Linked DNA regions of Homo sapiens: region 2 is linked to region 1. The links come from fine-mapping of genetic effects on gene expression. Tissue or cell type: unexposed skin. Region 1 holds a variant in brackets; the other region holds the start of a gene. All regions are shown on one strand. Distances are between the middles of the regions.

Region 1 (8,285 bases):
GGGTTCACACCATTCTCCTGCCTCAGCCTCCTGAGTAGCTGGAACTACAGGCACCCGCCACCGCGCCCGGCTAATTTTTTGTATTTTTAGTAGAGACGGGGTTTCACCGTGTTAGCCAAGATGGTCTCGATCTCCTGACCTCGTGATCCGCCCGCCTCGGCCTCCCAAAGTGCTGGGATTACAGGCGTGAGCCACCGTGCCCAGCCCATGTGTGTGCATTTTTGATAACTATGTACTTCTGGTGACTGTACAGTTTGAAATACTATTTTTTACCATGTTTTATAAAAATGCAGAATTTTGTTTTACTTTTTTTTTTTAAGCTATGTTGTTAGAACACAGAACACTTCATTGTTGTTTTGGGAGGACGGGGCATGTGTCACTAATAGAAAGTCTCCGAAGCTGGATCGATGTGGGGAAAACACCTTTCCCTTCCAGTTTTGAGAGACTTCCTCTTGGCTCCCAGGAGGAGGGATTCCCTGACTTTGACACACATGACCACCTTGGCACAAAAGCCTTGTGGTATGGAAAACAAATTCGTTTTTATGTCCTCTTCTCCCTTTCCATCTTTCAGCAGAAAATTAACTCCCTTAAACCCAGACATCTGCTGGGACCTGACCCTCAATCATTGGTTACCAGTGTGTCAGGCAATCTGGACTTTCCAGTGATGCCACTGAGATGGCACCTGTCAAAAGAGCAGTGGTTCCATTTCTAGATTGTGGATCTTCAGATAAATTCTACCATTTTCATTTCACTTTCTGAAAGTCAGGGTCGGCTTGTGAAAAGTTGTTAAACAACATGCTAAATGTGAAATGTCAACCCTCACTCCAAACTTTCCCTATTCAGAGCATGAGATGAAGACTTCATTGGGTTTTATAGTGGCTTTCTGATTTCTGGTAGTCCATTGAAGAAGAGAGTTTGAAAGTTGTTGTATACTGTTAACGATTGTCTGCCCATGTCCTGCCTGAAATACCATGATTGTTTATGGAAAGTATCTTTAATAAAGCTGCATACAGTTTGGCTTGGGAAAAAAAAAAAATAGAACCAAACTCTGTGCAAGTTCAGACTCATGCTGCACCACCAGCATCCACACTGGGTCATCTGTGAAGTCCTTCTCCAAGGCACACAGACAGTTGCTCAGCCTTTGCGTAAGGACAGCCCGGAAGTGGAGGGCAGTTCACTCCCCTGGGGCACCCTCAAGTGGTGGAGGCCAGGGTTGGGTGATAAAGCAAGATCCTCTCTGTGGGTGGACAACTCTGGGAGGTCATCTACATGCTTCTTAGAGGTTTCAAAGGGATTGAGTTTCCGCTGCCACCAGCCCTGACCTCACATTCCCACCCTTCTGTCAGCTTTTCCCTTTCCCTGCCTCTGTCTCTCAAAGCTCTCATGCCTTCATCTTTGTTTTTTCTGTTTTGTTTTGTTTTGAGAGACGGAGTCTTGCTCTGTTACTCAGGCTGGAGTGCAGTGGCACAAACTTGGCTCACTGCAACCTGCACCTTCCGGGTTCAAGGGATTCTCCTGCCTCAGCTTCCCAAGTAGCTGAAACTACGGATGTGCACCACCACACCCAGATAATTTTTGTACTTTTTAGTAGAGACGGAATTTCACTCTATGTTGGCCAGGCTCGTCTAGAATTTCTGACCTCAGGTCATCCGCCTGCCTTAGCCTCTCAAAATGCTGGGGTTACAGGCGTGAGCCACCACACCCAACCACATGCCTGCATCTTTGGATCTCCTCTCGAACAAACTGTACCCAAGTCCCCGCTCAGGCTCTGCATCTGGGCAGACCCAAACTAACACCTATGTGTCCCTTTAGTTCTGGCACTTTACTATAGACACATGACAATCAAGAACTGAGTACCACCTTTCTTACAGGATTACAATTTCCTTTTTTTTTTTTTTTTTTTGAGACAGAGTCTCTCTTTGTCAGCCAGGCTGGAGTGCAGAGGTGTGATCTCACTTCATTGCAACCTCCGCCGCCTGGATTCAAGCAATTATCCTAACTCAATCTCCCAAGTAGCTGGGATTACAGGTGTATTCCGCCGTACCTGGCTATTTTTTGTATTTTTAGTAGAGACAGGGTTTCACCATGTTGGCCAGGCTGGTCTTGAACTCCTGACCTCAAGTGATCCGCCTACCTCAGCCTCCCAAAGTGCTGGGATTACAGGGGTGAGCCACCGTGCCTGGCACAATTTCCATTTTGATGTGATTCATGAACTGCCATATTTTAAAATAAATTTAATTTTTTTAGTATAGTTTTAGATTTGCAGAAAAATTCAGAAGCTAGTACAGTGAGTGCTCATATATCCTGCACCAGTTTTCTCTCCTCTTAACATCTTACATGAGCATCGTACACCTGTTACAATTAATGAATCAGTATTGATACATAATTAGTAACTAAAGTCTATCTGCTTTCAGAGTTCTGTTGTTTCTGACTGATGCACTTTTTCTGTTCTAGGACCTTATCCAGGACACCATATTCCATTTACTAGTCAGGTCTTCTTAGGCACCTCTTGGCTATAAAAGTTTCTCAGATTTTCCTTGTTTTTGATGACGTTGATAGTTTTTCTAGTCAGCTATTCTGTAGAATGTTCTTCAATTTGGACTTGTCAGATGTTTTTGTCTTAATTGTGGTTTGGTTTTTTGGAGGAAGACCAAAGAAGTAAAGCGTCATTTTCATTACATCATACCCAGGGTCTGTACTACCAGTATGACTCATCACTGTTGATTTTGACCTTGATCACCCAGCTGAGATAGTGTTAGGTTTCTACACTATAAAGATACTCTTCCCAGCCAGGCGCGGTGGCTCACGCCTGTAATCCCAGAAATTTGGGAGGCTGAGATGGGTGGATCATTTGAGGTAAGGAGTTCCAGACCAGCCTGGCCAACATGGCAAAACCCCATCTCTACTAAAAATAAAAAAATAAAAAAATTATTGTTGGGTACCTGTAATCCCAGCTACTGGGGAGGCTGAAGCAGAAGAATCACTTGAACCCAGGAGGCAGAGGTTGCAGTGAGCCGAGATCGAGCCACTGCACTCCAGCCTGAGCAACACAGCAAGACTCCAACTCAAAAAAAAGAAAAAAAAAAGGTACTCTTCCCACCTCCCTTTTCATATTGTACACTTTGGAAGGAAGTTGCTATGGACAACCCACCCTTAAAGAGTGGAATATCTTAAGTAGAGTATCTCTACGTTATTTGGAATGCTGCCTGGGCGATGGTCTCTTCTCCTCCACTTATTTATTTATTTATTTATTTCCATTCATATATATATATATGTGTGTGTGTGTGTGTGTGTGTGTATACATATATATGGGTTTCTTTGTGTTTTTTGTTTGTTTGTTTGTTTGTTTAGCTGAAGTTTCGCTCTTGTCACCCAGGCTGGAGTGCAAAGGCGTGATCCCGGCTCACTGCAACCTCCACCTCCGGGGCTCAAGCAATTCTCCTGCCTCAGTCTCCTGAGTAGCTGGGATTACAGGTGCTTGCCACCATGCCTGGCTAATTTTTGTATTTTTAGTAGAGATGGGGTTTCACCATATTGGCCAGGCTTGTCTTGAAATCCTGACCTCAGGTGATCCTCCCGCCTTAGCCTCCCAAAGTGTTGGGATTACAGGTGTGAGCCACGCGCCTGGCAACTTATTTATTCAATCATTTTTTTATCAGTATGAACTCATAGATATGTACTTTATATTTTGGGTTATAATCCAATATTTATTATATTGCCCAAATTGTTCCGGCTTTAGCTATTGGGAGATCTGTCAGTTGGCTCCTGGACCTCTGACGTACTCTCATCATTGTGGTTTTGTGTTTGTTTGTTCAGCAGTTTTTTGTGTTCTGGAATTACAAGATGCTCCAGGCTTATCCTGTATATTTCCTGCTTCAGTTTTAGAATCAGCCATTTCTTCAAAGAGCATTGGTTCCTTTTTTGGAGAAAAATCAAGATCTAAGTGGCAGGTATGTTCTTTGCTACTGGGGTGTCATTCCTCTTTCAGCCTCCCTCAACTGACAGAGCAAGGAAATGTGCGTGTGTATACTACCCAATGCATATACATTACCTAAATATTTCTGTTCATAAGCATCTGTATCTATATTAAACTAAACAGGAGTGGCCAGGCACGGTGGCTCATGCCCATAATCCCAGCACTTTGAGAGGCAGAGGCAGGTGGATCACTTGAAATCAGGGGTTCGAGACCAGCCTGGCCAACACGGTGAAACCCTGTCTCTACTAAAAATACAAAAATTAGCTGGGCGTGGTGGTGGGCACCTGTAATCCCAGCTACTCGGGAGGCTGGGGCAGGAGAATCGCTTGAACCAGGAGGTGGAGGTTGCAGTGAGTTGAGATCACTCCGCTGCACTCCAGCCTAGGCGACAGAGCGAGACTCTGTCTCAAAAAAAAGACAAAACCTAAACAGGAGTTCATAGTGATGACTCCAACTCTAATCTATTACCACATGGATTATTCTCACTTACACTCACCTTTGCCCCCCACTTATCTGTAACCTCTCATGATAACAGTGAGAAACCTGGCTCCCACCATCTGCCATCTATGTATTTAACTGTTCGATTCTCTTTATATGTATAGCAGTGTTACAACTGTTAATTCACACCCATGTGATAAATGACTTTATCAACTAGAGACAGGGCTTGTGTACAGCTTCTTTTGCCCTTCCCCTCATGGACTCATTTCCAGTGCTGCTTAGGTTAGCACATTTCCCCCAGCCCCCTTCTGTGAGGCTGTTTCATACATTTGTAATGCAGTTAGATTGTCTTGCCCCATTCTGCATTTCATCCAGGCATTCCCCAAACCCTCTAAAGATTTTTTGAAATTTGCATATATTAAGATTCACTCTTTGTGCCATGAAGTTCTATGAGTTTTGACGAACCCCTATTACCATCTCTCCACCATTATTGTATCATTCAGAATAGTTTGACTCCCTAAAAGTGCCATGTGCTTTACTTATTCAACCCTTCCACTCTCCCCTGAACCCCTGGTGATCACTGATCTTTTTACTGTATCTACAGTTTTGCCTTTTCCAGAATGTTATGTCTTAGTCCATTTAGTGTTGCTAGAAAGAAATACCAGAGGCTGGGTAATTTATGAAGAGGTTTATTTGGCCCACAGTTCTACAGGCTATACAAGAAGCATGGCACCAGCATCTGCTTCTGGTGAGGGCTTCGGCCTGCTTCCACTCATGGTGAAAGGTGAAAGGAACCAATGTACAAAGATCGCATGGCGAGAGAGAGGGGAGGGAGGTGCCAGGCTCTTTTTAACAACCAGCTGTCACGGAAATTAACAGAGTGAGTACTCATTCCATTGTGCATACCCCCTTCCCTTCCAGGGAGGGTGTGTTAGTCTGTTCTCATGTTGCTA[T/A]AAAGAAATACCTGAGACTGGGTAATTTATAAAGAAAAGAGATTTAATTGGCTCATAGTTCAGTTCTGCAGGCTGTACAGGAAGCATGATGCTGGCATCTGCTTCTGGGGAGGCCTTAGGAAGCTTCCAGTCATGGCAGAAGGCAAAGGGGGAGTGAGGTGCCTCACGTGGTGGGAGCAGAAGCAAGAGAGAGAGTGAAGAGAGAGGTGCTATGCACTTTTAAACAATCAGATCTTACAAGAACTCCCTCACTATCAATTGTGAGGACAGTACCAAGGGGGATAGTGCTAAACCATTCATGAGAAATCCACCCTCATGATACAACCACCTCCTACCAGTCCCCAACTCCAACACTGAAGATTACAATTGAACATCATGGGATCTGGGCAGGACACAGATCCAGACCATATCAGAGGGTATTAATCTATCCATGAGGGATCCACCCCCATGACTTAAATTCCTCCTATTAGACCCCACTTCCAACACTGGGGTCAAGTTTCATCATGAGGATCAGGAGATAAATATCCACATCCCCTTTCAGACTGGCTCATTTCACTTAGCATCCGTTTTGTGTGTGTGTGTGTGGTTTGATAGCGCATTTCCTTTTGAAGCAGATACCATTGTCCTGATATACCACAGTGTGTTTATACATTCATCTATTGATGAATGTTTTGATTGTTTCCAGTTTTGAGCGATAATGAATAAAGATGCTATAAACATTTGTGTGCAGGTTTTGTGTGAACTTAAGTTTTCAAGTAGTTGGGTAAATACCTAGGAGCATGATTGCTGGATCGTATGGTAAGACTATTAAGAGTGTTATCTATTTATGTTTACTGTGATTACTGTTTTAGATTTCCTTCTAAAATCTTATTTTGGACTTTCTAAGACCTGCTTTTCTGTTTCTTTTTATTCTTCCATCTGGTCTTCTTTTGAATTAACTGAGATTTTTTCCCCCATTACTTTCAAAGTTATACACTCAATTTTTTTTCTTTTACTGTTACCTTGAAAAAAATATTTTTAACATGCATAAGTTTGCCAAACTCTTGAATACTTTGTAAAGGTCTAAGAATGCTTGAACTCCAGTTTATCCTCCTTCAGCTTGTGTACTCTTTTGTCCTGTTTTTTAGTTGTATTTTGTTCTTTATGTCCCAAAGAAGACAGACTTTGCATTACTATGTGAAGTCAATGTTCATTAAGATTTCCATTCCCCTTTTTTGGCCAACATGCTTTCTTGAACCTTAGACCTTACATCAGCTCATCATCTTTCTGCACAAAGCAAATTCCCTTTTTTTTTTTGGACGGAACTTCATTCTTGTCTCCCAGGCTGGAGTGCAGTGGCACGATCTCAGCTCACTGCAACCTCCGCCTCCCGGGTTCAAGCGATTCTCCTGCCTCAGCCTTGCAAGTAGCTGGGATTACAGGTGCCCACCACCACATCCGGCTAATTTTTGTACTTTTAGTGGAGATGAGGTTTCACCAGGTTGGCCAGGCTGCTCTTGGGAACTCCTGACCTCAGGTGATCTGCCCACCTCGGCCTCCCAAAGTGCTGAGATTACAGGTGTGAGCCACCACTCTTGGCAGCAAATTCCTTAACTTTCCTTTAGTGAGTGTCCATTGGTGACAAACACATCTATTCTATGTCTGAAATGTCTATTTCACCTAGTTCATTCTAGTTCATCCCTACAATACAGCTTCACTGGCTATAAACAACTTTGGGTTAAGAGCTGCTTTTTCCCTTAAGCCATTGATGACACTATTCCACTGTCTTCTGGCTTTCCTTCCTGCTGTTGGGAAGTCAGTAAGCCTCATCGTTACTATCTCATAGGTGGTCTGACTTTTGTCACTGCCTGATATCCTGCAGCTTCAATATATATGGAGGTATGGATTTATTTTATTTAACTCACTTGGGATGTGTGTAAGTTTCCAAATCTGTGAATTGGTGGCTTGCATCAATTCTGGAAAATGTCTTTATCTTTTCAAATACTTTCTACTTCCAGTTCTCTCCTAAAGTTTATCTGAGACATGCAAGAAAACCTCAGTCTTCCACATCTTTTTTCTTAGCAAATTAACACAAGACCACATTTTTTTTTTTTTTTGAGATGGAATCTCGTTCCGTGCCCAGGCTGGAGTGCAGTGGCGTGACTATCTCAGCTCACTGCAACCTCCACCTTCCAGGTTCAAGTGATTCTCCTGCCTCAGCCTCCAGAGTAGCTGGGACTACAGGTGTGCACCACACCTGGCTAATTTTTGTATTTTTAGTAGAGACAGGCTTTCACCATGTTGGCCAGGCTGGTCTCAAACTCCTGACTTCAAGTGATCTGCCTGCCTCAGCCTCTCAAAGTGCTGGGATTACAGGCGTGAGCCACCACACCCAGCCAGGATCACAGATTTTAAATGTAACATTTAAAATTTGTCCCACCCATTTGACCCTGTGCTTCGGGGGAATTGGCTCTGCTTTCTAGTTCATTAATTCGCTGTTCTGTTAGTTATTTTTTTAAGGAATTCATTTTTATCTAAGGTACTCTTTTTTTTTACACTTTTATATAACATAAAAAACTTTTTTATACGTTTTTACACTTTTATATAACATATAAAAAACATTCATCGTATATTTTATGTCTGAAAATTCCTCTCTCCTGTCTTTGCAGGTCTGGCTGTGCTGTCTGTTTTCTGCTGGCTTTCATTCAGGATGCCTTATCTGTGGCATCCTGTGATTTTGTGGGTTTGTGATATTTTTACTAGAAGCTCATGTTCTTGGAGCTTCTAGGAGAGAGTTTGAGGCTAAATCAAAGGTGTGTTCTAGCATAGATACGCAGTTGCTTTGGCTATGAGCTCAGAGGTACTACCAGCTTAGGGCATCTTTTTCTTTTTTTTTTTTTTTTGAGACGGAGTCTCGGCTCACTGCAAGCTCCGCCTCC
Region 2 (5,000 bases), 23 kb after region 1:
CTGAGTGATTCATTCAACAGATAAAACTGAAGTATCTACCACATGTAAATTATTGTAGGCAATGGGGAAGAGTGGTGAATGCGAGAGTCACCTGTGTTACAGACAAGAGGAAGAGACAGGCAACAAACAAGTATATATACAAACTATACATAGAGAGATAAAATTGTGGCAAGTGCAATGACAAACAGGCTGCCATTTTAGAGAATTACCCAGGACCCACATTCCACAGAGTAGATAGGGATGTTCCCTACAGAGGAGGTGACATTCCGTCTGAGGGTGGAAAGCAATCTGTGATAGGAGTCTGGGGGCTTACAAATAATCTTCCAGGCTGGGCACGGTGGCTCACGCCTGTAATCCCAGCACTTTGGGAGGCAGAGGTGGGTGGATCACAAGGTCAGGAGATCGAGAGCATCCTGGCTAACATGATGAAACCCCGTCTTTACTAAAAACACAAAAAATTAGCCGGGCGTGGTGGCGGGCGCCTGTAGTCCCAGCTACTCGGGAGGCTGAGGCAGGAGAGTGGCAGGAACCCGGGAGGTGGAGCTTGCAGTGAGCCGAGATCGAGCCGCTGCACTCCAGCCTGGGCGACAGAGCTAGACTCTGTCTCAAAAAAAAAAAAAAAAATCTTCCAGGCTGGGTGGAGTGGCTCACGCCTGTAATTCCAGCTCTTTGGGAGGCCAAGGCAGGTGGAGCATCTGAGGTCAGGAGTTAAAAGACCAGACTGGCCAGTATAGTGAAACCCCATCTCCACTAAAAACACAAAAATTAGCCAGGTGCACGCCCGTAATCAAGAAAATAATCTTCCAGGCAGAGCGGCCTGCGGCATGCATACTGCCCAAGAGCAAAGAGACTGTGACATTTTGAGGATCTCAGGCTGCAGATGAGGCTTGGCTGACAGAATTCTCTAATGGCCAAACCTGAGAGGAAAAGCTGAGACGTCTCAGAGTAGCTCATAAAATACAGGGCACTCTAAGCCCTTTTTCTTGTACCTTGTCCCTGAATCCTCACAAGCCTAGGAGAGGCACGGCATTTAGAGGCACTGCCATGCTAGAACGGCTGGCCAAATCAGCCAGCATCAAAATCACAAAGGATCATTGTCACAAAGACTGATGTAAAAGTGGCTCTTAGATCTAGAACCCAGCTGCCCAAGCACCGGTTTGCATGGTGTGGCAAGAACACTGCTAATGGAGCTCAGGCTTGCTTTGGAATATGAAATCAGGAGCACTGTGAAAAGGGCACCGGGATAATCGGTCTCCAACCCCAACCCTGTGTAACAGTTCTGAGATACATCAAAAGAAAAATGAGGCCGGGCGCGGTGGCTCATGCCGATAATCCCAGCACTTTGGAAGGCCTAGGCGGGCAGATCACCAGGTCAGGAGATCGAGACAATTCTGGCTAACATGGTGAAACCTTGTCTCTACTAAAAATACAAAAAATTACCCGGGAGTGGTGACGGGCGCCTGTAGTCCCAGCTACTCAGGAGGCTGAGGCAGGAGAATGGCGTGAACTGGAGAGGCGGAGCTTGCAGTGAGCCGAGGTCGCGCCACTGCACTCCAGCCTGGGCGACAGAGCAAGACTCTGTCTCAAAAAGAAACAAACAAACAAACAAACAAAAAGAGCAGAATCCTTTCTACAGGGTGGTCAGGGAAGGCCTCAAGGGACCTGAAGGACAGGGAATGCAAAGGAGGCCAGGGCAGCCCTCAAGCTACCACTTCACCATTTAAGAGTGTCTAGGCCAGGTGCGGTGGCTCATCCTGTAATCCCAACACTTTGGGAGGCTGAGGCTGGGCAACATAGGGAGACCCCATCTGCACAAAAAATTAGCCCAGAGTGGTGGGTGCACGCCTGTGGTCCCAGCTACTCCGGAGGCTGACAAGGGAGGATGGCTTAGCCCCGGGAGGTCGAGGTTGCAGTGAGCTGTGACAGAGCCACTGCACTCCAGCCTGGGCAACAGAGCAAGACCCGGTCTCAAAAAAAAAAAAAACAGTGTCTGGCTCCTGGCAGACACGCCCTCCCCTCCAGCCCCTAATGCCTCCCTCCCCAGCAAAACCCGCACCCTCTCCTCTCCATCTGCCACTAAGCAGAGATTAGAATTTCTGACCACTGCGGGATCTTTGGACAGTGACAAAATTTAGTTGGCATAGGTTTTCACCCACAATAGTGCCCATTTCCATGGTGTTTTCATTCATTCTCCTTAGGCTTTAACCAAATTCCGCTAGTAAATTGCAGCTACAGAAAAATAATTTATTTTACCTATTTTAATAAAAAAAAAAAAAAGGACGAAACAGAGGGACCCTCGCGGGGAGCTCTGGAACCCGAGCGGTCAGATAGGGAACACGCCCCAAGCGGATCCCAGGGCTCGGGGGAAGAGGGTGTAACTAAGCCCTCACCTGGCTCTCAGTGGAGCCAGGAACACCGGCTGTGGCGCTGCTTTACGTGCGGAAGACCCCAGGCCGGACCCTCCGCTTCCTAACACCTCTGCCCAGGTGTGCCTTAGGGGAGTTCAGGAGAGGAGGTAACTTTTGTTAGGCGGGATCCGGCAAGACCTTCACAGGCCCGGGTGGGTAGAGACCGCGAGAAGACATAGTCCCGGAGGACGAGGTTTGGGGGACCCGGCACACCGAGGCGGGGACGCCCAGGCCGTGGGTCCTGGTGGGACCACGCCCGCCTCCCGCACTGCGCCTGCGCAGGGCCTGGACGCGCCGGGCCTCCCTCGTGCCTGCGGCGCCGGAGCTTCCCCCAGGGCGGGCGTCCACTGCCCGCCCGGGCCTAACGAGACAAAGGAACGGGCCGCAGCCCCCAGACCCGAGACCCGTCCTAGCTCACCTGCATCTTGTTTCCAGTTCAGTTGCTCAAACCAGCTGTGCCGCAGCGCCCCCGCCCCTCAGCTCTCTTTTGTGCACGCGCACAGCGCCGCCACGCCTCTTCCCCCAGCCCAGCCTTCGCCCCGCCCAGGGACGAGCGGCGGGGAGTAAGGGCGGAAGCAACAGCCTTGAGTCTGCGCCTGCTCTTCAAGGAACTGGCACAGAAGCGTTCGCATGCGCCAGATAGGATCTGCCTACTGTCCTGCTCGGAGTGCACTTGACCTGGTTCTAATTCTGGTGGCTGCCTTATTAGGGCTGGTCTTCAGCGGAGGAGGGGTGGGGCTGGGTGGAGGAGGAGCCCGGGGCCGTGTGCCTTTTCCAGCTGCCGGCCCAAACCTGTAAAGACGTCTCGCTCTGACTAGCCTAACAAGTCAGAAATAGAAAATTGCCTCTAGGCCGGGCGCGGTGGCACACGCCTGTGATCCCAGGCCGAGGCGGGCGGATCACTTGAGGTCAGGAGTTCGAGATCAGCCTGGCCAACATGGTGAAACCCCGTCTCTACTAAAAATACAAAAAAATTAGCCGGGCGTAGTGGTGGTTGCCTGTAATCCCAGCTACTCTGGAGGCTGAGGCAGAAGAATTGCTTGAACGGGGGAGGCGGAGCTTGCAGTGAGCTGAGATCTCTCCACTGCACTCCAGCCTGGGTTACAGAGCGAGACTCCGTCTTAAATAAATAAATAAATAAAAATGATGCAGGGTCTTCTGGAATTCACCCACGATCACTTCAGCCTTGGAAAAGGCAACTCATTAATAAGACATTGAGAGCCTGCTGTGTACCAGGCACCATTCTAGGCTCTGCAGATGCAGCAGTGAGCAAAACACTAAAACAAAGGTGAAAGTCATCTGCCGTGCCTGAGTATCAGGAGACCCATGTATGCAGGCACACAGGCACTGAGCAAAAAGCAGCAATCTGACTTGTAAAATGCAGGTATTGGGCTCCAGAGCTTCTGCCCAGGCACACTCCAAGTTTAAGAGAGCAATATTCCTACCTGGTATGGAAGGAAGCATCTTGCACACGTGGGCTAACTTGCTGCCTCCTGGCAACTAAGCGGACACAGAGAGTAGAGACCCACACACCTGTGAGATAGGCGCAGGGCTTCCAACCGTGGCTATGCATTAGAATCACCTGGAAGCCCTCAAAAACTAGGAATGTCCTGGGGCTCCATCCCCAGACAAATTAAATCCTTGGAAATGAGGCCTAGCACAGATACTTTCTTAAAGATCCTCAGGTGATGCTAAAGTGCACAGTCGTTGATATAGAGTGAATCAAATGATTGCTTGAGAGCAAGGAGTTTTTATTTAATTTATAAGGATCCTTAAGATTTTTCTCACTCATTTCAACTGAATTACAGGCCCTTTTAGGGATTTATTAATGTATCTGGCAGCACAATGTTTGTTAATGAATTTTCCTTGGGTCTTACCACCAAAATCAGGACTGGAACTAACTTTGAGTTTGATCCTGTGCTTCTTGCTCAGTCCTGCACAGCAACAGAGCAGGTGGTGTTTTGTCCTTTCCTCATCCCCAGCCTTTGCTGTTCCCTGAGGCCTGTTTTCCAGGACTCAGCTATTCTACAGTTGCTCTTCCCCACATGATCCGGTCAGAGGCATTCTAACCAAAGCCAATCCATCCTGAATAGGGGATGGGGAAAAGGAGGCTGAGACCTACTGGGTTGTATTCCCAGAAGGTTACGCATGCTTAGTCACAGAATATTTACCAAACAGACCTAAGACAACAGACCCAGGAAATGGCCTGGTGTCCTGAAAGCTTTCTTTTTTCTTTCTTTTTTTTGAGATGGAGTTTCACTCTTGTTGCCCAAGCTGGAGTGCAATGGCGTGATCTCGGCTCACTGCAATTTCCACCTCCTGGGTTCAAGCGATTCTCCTGCCTCAGCTTCCGAATAGCTGGGATTACAGGTGCGCGCCACCACGCCTGGCTAATTTTTTTTTTTTGTATTTGTAGTAGAGACGGGGTTTCACTGTGTTAGCCAGGCTGGTCTCGAACTCCTGACCTCAGGTGATCCACCTGCCTTGGCCTCCCAAAGTGCTGGGATTAAAGGTGTGAGCCACCGCACCTGGCCTTGTTTTGTTTTTTTGAGAGTCTCTCTTTGTTCCCCACCCTGGAGTGCAATGGCAAGA

The links. PIP is the estimated chance that this variant, and not a neighbour inherited with it, causes the effect. A credible set is the group of variants that fine-mapping cannot tell apart.
Region 2: PDCL3 starts here. The variant in region 1 is the best candidate, but not a certain one, in a credible set for the expression of PDCL3 in unexposed skin (GTEx, PIP 0.60).

The regions. Positions count from the first base shown.
Region 1 is chr2:100,582,664-100,590,948 of GRCh38, reverse strand. No RefSeq gene overlaps it. Among named protein-coding and RNA genes, the nearest start is that of LINC01849, 17 kb to the left of the region's middle. The variant T/A (reference allele first, on the strand shown) is at 5,368.
Region 2 is chr2:100,560,900-100,565,899 of GRCh38, reverse strand. PDCL3 (phosducin like 3) reads right to left here and starts at 2,907. Exons shown (of 6, transcript NM_024065.5): 1 at 2,827-2,907. The coding sequence starts at 2,832. RefSeq lists a silencer at 2,581-2,920 and an enhancer at 3,366-4,162.